2 separate regions of the Homo sapiens genome follow, and region 2 is linked to region 1. Evidence: fine-mapped expression QTL. A gene starts in region 1. The other region holds a variant in brackets. All regions are shown on one strand. Distances are from middle to middle. Region 1 holds the start of KIAA0586. Region 2 overlaps ARID4A (AT-rich interaction domain 4A).

The links. PIP is the estimated chance that this variant, and not a neighbour inherited with it, causes the effect. A credible set is the group of variants that fine-mapping cannot tell apart.
Region 2: its variant is the best candidate, but not a certain one, in a credible set for the expression of KIAA0586 in tibial nerve (GTEx, PIP 0.69).

What each region holds. Positions count from the first base shown.
Region 1 is chr14:58,426,126-58,429,047 of GRCh38, reverse strand. It overlaps KIAA0586, which reads right to left and starts at 1,329. Exons shown (of 31, transcript NM_001329943.3): 1 at 585-1,329. The coding sequence starts at 783. It overlaps TIMM9 (translocase of inner mitochondrial membrane 9), which reads left to right and starts at 1,517. Exons shown (of 6, transcript NM_012460.4): 1 at 1,517-1,656; 2 at 1,806-1,994. RefSeq lists enhancers at 1,058-1,247, 1,318-1,367, 2,382-2,922.
Region 2 is chr14:58,373,743-58,376,664 of GRCh38, reverse strand. ARID4A (AT-rich interaction domain 4A) reads right to left here. Exons shown (of 24, transcript NM_002892.4): 24 at 2,789-2,922. All of the region lies in intron 1 of TOMM20L-DT (TOMM20L divergent transcript), which reads left to right. Among named protein-coding and RNA genes, the nearest start is that of TOMM20L-DT, 21 kb to the left of the region's middle. The variant A/G (reference allele first, on the strand shown) is at 1,388.

The DNA.
Region 1 (2,922 bases):
TAACAGCAGTACTATTTGAGTGTCACCGCTGTATCCCCCAAAGAACAGCATTACAAAAGCGTTTTGCTGTTTTTGCTCACATATTCATTAATTTAATCCTCACAATTAGCAGCGAAGTGGGTAAAGCATATGTTATCCTTATTTTCACTGAGCTCTAGACAGATTAAGTGAATTGGAATATAGAAGCCATCAATTGGCAGAAGTCCTGCTTTTCCCACTATGAAAAGAAAGTAGTGAATTAGGTAAAAAGCACTACTTTGGGGGAAAACTATAAAAAACACTACGTGGGGGAAAATAAAGCACATTATACAAGTTAAGTGTATCCACCATAAATATAAAAAAAAAAATATGCAAAAGTCAATGCAAAAAAAAAAAAAAAAAGCACAACAGGGGACGTTAAAGTTTCATTCATTCCATCTATTCAAACATTTTATAGGCTTCCTGGCCATTTTCCCGGGAAACAGGGTCAGTTTTCAAACATCTGTACAAACTAGACTTATATCTTACGTTTGGGAATTTAAACAAATAAGGACTAAAGATTTACTAAACTAAAACTGGTTGAAAAACTACATGGAATCACATACCACGTGATGTTCCATTCAAACTAGTCCCCGTTCCAACAGGAAGACGTTTATTTGCAGACAATGCCGGAGGAACACAGGGCAACTCATCTTTCAGCAAAACCAAATGATCTCCATGATTTTGAGAAACTACCTCACGAAGTCTCTTCACTGGCATCTTAATCTTTTTTTTCTTCTCCAAGCTGACCTCAGAGCCTTTCATATTGTTGGTCACAAAACAAGTCCCACACTTAAGGACGGAAAAACTTTCTCTGTTTCCTTAAGACTTCAGAACAAAATTTTCACCTCTTTGCAATAACTGTTTTTAAAATGTCGAACATCCACAAAGCTGAAAATCTAAATTCTGATATTGAATCCAGGATTAGAGCTGACTATAAAGTCATATTTACCCATTAATCCCACTCAGTCTATTAATACACCACGCCAAAATGTGAAAGTGGGGATGACAAGAGAATGGCCACAGGAGCAACAATAACCATAACAGTGCACTCCCCAACCCCAGAGCTGGTAGGGCAAAACCAAACACATGTAGTGGCGGGCTTAAAATTTGTTGAGAAGAGGCAGTCAAGCAAATAAAAGCGAAATGCTATTTTTAAAATAATGACCCACATAAGAAGCGTAATAGCTTTCTTCAGCCACAGAGTCTTACACACCCCTCCAGATGCAATCGTCGGAAACATAAATTCACCCCTACGTATCTCCAGAACGCCCGAGACCCGCACCGTCGTGGGTGTAATCTGACAACAGCGTCAGTTGCCCGCAGGTCAACACCCACTTCCCTTCAAACCCGCCCTTGAGACACAACACGCATGCGCGCCAAGAAACTCACCCAAAACATCCAACCAGAAAGCTAAGCGCTCTCTGGTGCTCTTCCATTCCTCTCCGGGTGGAAACAAACTCCGGACATAACAGGGGTTTATTTATTTATTTATTTTAAGGTAGCACATTGCCGCACAAGACCGCTCTACAGTCTCATCCAAGACTTGAAGAGCTCCCGACTTGTAATACTACTTGTGTTTACCAGGGACTGTTGACACTGCTTCGCTTCCGAAGACCGTTAGGGACGTGGGATTAGGTAAATTAGGCTTCCAAGAAGTTTCGACAGATTCGGGTCATTATTGGAGAGGAAGTCGGGAATAGAAAGCGTTGTCTAAGCAGAAAATAACCGAAGTTAATCCTTAGGAGATTTTAGAATTCGCTGATGGTACCTGCTTTTTCTTCTAGATTTCCTCGCGTTATAACGAATCGGCGTCTAAGGGTTTAAGTGTCACTTGACATTACTGCTCCCACGTGTTCTTTCCCATCTGGCGGCCGCGGCTCCTGTCCAGACCCTGACCCTCCCTCCCAAGGCTCAACCGTCCCCCAACAACCCCCAGCCTTGTACTGATGTCGGATGCGAGAGCCTGTGCTTAAGTATGGTGTCTGTTCTCTGCCGTGAGAATCCGGGGTTCCCGGACGGGGGGTGGCAGGCTACGCTCCAGGAAAGTGGCGGGGTCTCCCGAGGAGGCCGCCGCACGTACCTGGAGCAGTGGGGGGTGCGAAGCGGGACAGCGCTTCGCCGGGTCGGGTGCAGACCTTCCTGGAGATGGTGTCACCTGGGCGAGGGTAGGAACTTTAGGCCCTGAGCCACCCCCAACCCGGATCTGGGGAGTCGGGGTCCTGTTTTGGGACACTGAATTAGACTATAAGGTATTTACGATGTGACCTTGAGCTGCCCGGGGGAAGATCCTCCTTTAAATGAAAATCGTCTTTAGACATAATACCAGGTCTAACACCCCTTCCCTGATCTGCTCATTTCCCAGGATGCGCTACTTAGAGCTTTCCCTTTACGCCTTACTGGAGGCTTTAGAATAATCAAAGCAGAAAATGTAATCCGATCTAAAAGCTAAATAACTAATTTTATTTCTTTTACATCTCGGCAGTCTACCTTCATAGAAGTCTAGACTTAAAATGGACTTTAAAGTCTGAGCGCGGTGGCTCACGCCTGTAATCCCAGCACTTTGGGAGGCCAAGGCGGGCGGATCACGAGATCAGGAGTTCGAGACCAGCCTGGCCAGCAAGGTGAAACCCCGCCTCTACTGAAAATACAAAAAATTAACTGGGCATGGTGGCGCGCGCCTGTAGTCCCAGCTACTCAGGAGGCTGAGGCAAGAGAATTGCTTGAACCCGGCAGGTGGAGGTTGCAGTGAGCTGAGATCGCGCCATTGTGCTCCAGCCTGAGTGACAGATCAAGACTGTCTTAAAAAAAAAAGAAAAAAAAAGACTTTAAGGGCTCAGCGTTAAAGACCCTTTTAATTATTATTTTTTTGTAACTTGCTGAGTTTCTCTAATGAGTTTTGTG
Region 2 (2,922 bases), 52 kb after region 1:
CCAGGCAAAGTGATGAACACCTGTAGTTCCAGCTACTTGGAAGGCTGAGGTGGGAGAATCACCTGAGCCAGGGAAATAGAGGCTGCAATGAGCCATGATTGCACCCCTGCACTCAAGCCTGGGTGACAGTAGTCAAACGTAAGACCCTGTCTCAAAATAATAATAATAATAACCCTAAAGACCTCTTTTAAATGTCTGGCTTTAGGCCAGGCGCCGTGGCTCACACCTGTAATCCCAGCACTTGGGTGGCCAAGGCGGGTGGATCACTTGAGGTCAAGAGTTTGAAACCAGCCTGGCCAATGTGGTGAAACCCTGTCTCTACTAAAAAACAAAACAAACAAACAAATGTCTGGCTTTAAGAACTCAATCATCTAGTAGGATAGAAACACACATGCACAAGTAAACATCAGGTAAATTGTCAAGTAAAATAATACAGACTGAAAAGCTATCAGAGCATAAAAGAGGGCACTATTCTGGTTGTAGTGAGAAGTCAGCAAAAGCTTCATGGAAAAGTGGCTCTTGAGACACCTCTGGACAAGCAGGGTTGAGAGTGGTAGGGAACTGCTCAAACCTTGACCACCTGTCCTTTTTGCTCCTGTTCCCCTACCACTCTCAGTCCTACTTGACTCCTATCCTGCATCAGGTCTACTCTTGCCCTGGCTCATTACCTGGACCATTTCTATCAATCTCCCCTCCCCCATGTCCCTGGAACACTATACTCTCCATATCTCTCCTTCTACTTCCCCAGCCAATTCATAATCTTCACTGGAGTTCAGTTTTCTTGTTGCTTTCTCTGCAAAGCCTTCCCATACCACCCCTGCCTTCAAACTAGTGGGCTCTCTATCATTATCTCATTGCACACCATAACTTCATATGCTTATTATACCTGCACTTAAGAATTACATGAGTTTGGATAAGCAGAGACTGTAATAAAAAAATAATAATTACATGAGTTAACTGTTTACATCTACCATATTATTACACCGTGATTATACATTCCATGAAGAGAAGGACTTTATTCTGTCTTGTTCACCGTTGTGGCTCCTGGGCCTTAAGCTTATGCCTGGCACATAGAAGATACTAAATAAATCATCAATGAATGAATTCTGTTAATTGGTTTTATATATGGTTGAATATAGCTTTGAATGCTTTCACACTCTTGATAGCTATGTTAAATTACAGGGCTTAAGGCTGGGCGCGGTGGCTCACGCCTGTAATCCCAGCACTTTGGGAGGCTGAGGCGGGCGGATCACAAGGTCAGGAGATTGAGAACATCCTGGCTAACACGGTGAAACCCCGTCTCTACTAAAAATACAAAAAATTAGCCGGGCGTGGTGGTGGGTGCCTGTAGTCCCAGCTACTCAGGAGGCTGAAGCAGGAAAATGGC[A/G]TGAACCCGGGAGGCGGAGCTTGCAATGAGTGGAGATCGCGCCACTACATTCCAGCCTGGGCAACAGAGCAAGACTCCGTCAAAAAAAAAAAAAAAAAAAAAAAAAAAAAAAAAAAAAAAAAAATTACAGGGCTTATAAGAAAGGTATGTAAGCAAATTAACTGGGCAATCCACATAGATTTTCATAACTTAAAGCAATTTCATAGAAGGCATAGTATGTAGTAGTCTTTTAATATGCTAAGTGCAACCATCTTTCTTAGTGAAAGAGAGGAAAACTAGAAATTTAACACAAAATAACAAACAATAAAAGCACACAATGTCCAGCTGGGCACAATGACTCACACCTATAATCCTTGCACTTTGGGAGGCCGAGGCAGAAGGATCGCTTGAGCCCAGGAGTTCAAGACCAGCCTGGGCAACACAGCAAGACCCTGTCTCTACAAAAAATTTAAAAATTAGCCAGGTGTGGTGGCACATGCCTGTAGTCCCAGCTACTCAAGAGGCTGAGGTGGGAGGATGGCTTGAGCCCACGAGGTCAAGGCTGAAGTGAGCTGTGTTCACACCACTACACTCCAGCCTAGGTGACAGAGCAAGACCCTGTTTCAAAAATTGAAATACATAAAAGCACACAATGCAATACTAAAACAGAAAGCACCATAATCTTTTAAATAACTTGATTTTACAGATGGCAACTTGCATTATATTAGAGTGTCTTTATATTTTTACTTTTTTTTTTTTTTTTTTTTTTTTTAGACAGAGTCTTGCTCTGTCATCAGGTTGAAGTGCAGTGGTGTGATCTGGGCTCACTGCAACCTCTGTCTCCCGGGTTCAAGTGATTCTCCTGCCTCAGCCTCCTGAGTAGCTGGGACTATAAGCACGTGCCACCACGCCCAGCTAATTTTTGTATTTTTAGCAGAGATGGGGTTTCACCATATTGGTCAGGATGGTCTCAATCTCTTAACCTTGTGATCCGCCTGCCTCTGCCTCCCAAGATGCTGGGATTACAGGTATGAGCCACCGCACCCAGCCTATATTTTTACTTTCTTAGTTACATTTAAGAGGTATCTATTCAAAGTTTACCTAAACTCAAAATATGCTCAATATTTGAAATGTCATACTTAGTCAATATTCACTTAATTTCATAATCCTTTCCAGCCTCCAAATGAAAGGATTTTAACAGTGTGTATCTATTCAATGAATACACAGTTTTGCTCTTTGTAGCAACATCCCAATACTTCATGACCAAATTTGTATCAATTAGAAGGGACAGTACTCAAGCTGATAACTTATTTATCTCACATTTATTGAATTGCTACAGAAGGAAATCATTAAAATATTTAATGTATAAATCTAAGGTTGCCTCCTAGGTCCAAATGGATTTAAATGACACTTTTTTTTTCATTTTTATAATTAGTAGAAATATTTTATTGTAAAGGCTGAATATACTAAAATGCTTGGTTTTGTGAAATCTGATTTTCCAACTGTAAGTTACAAGCACTTAGGAAAAAAGCAATCACTTAAATGAAAACTAAAAG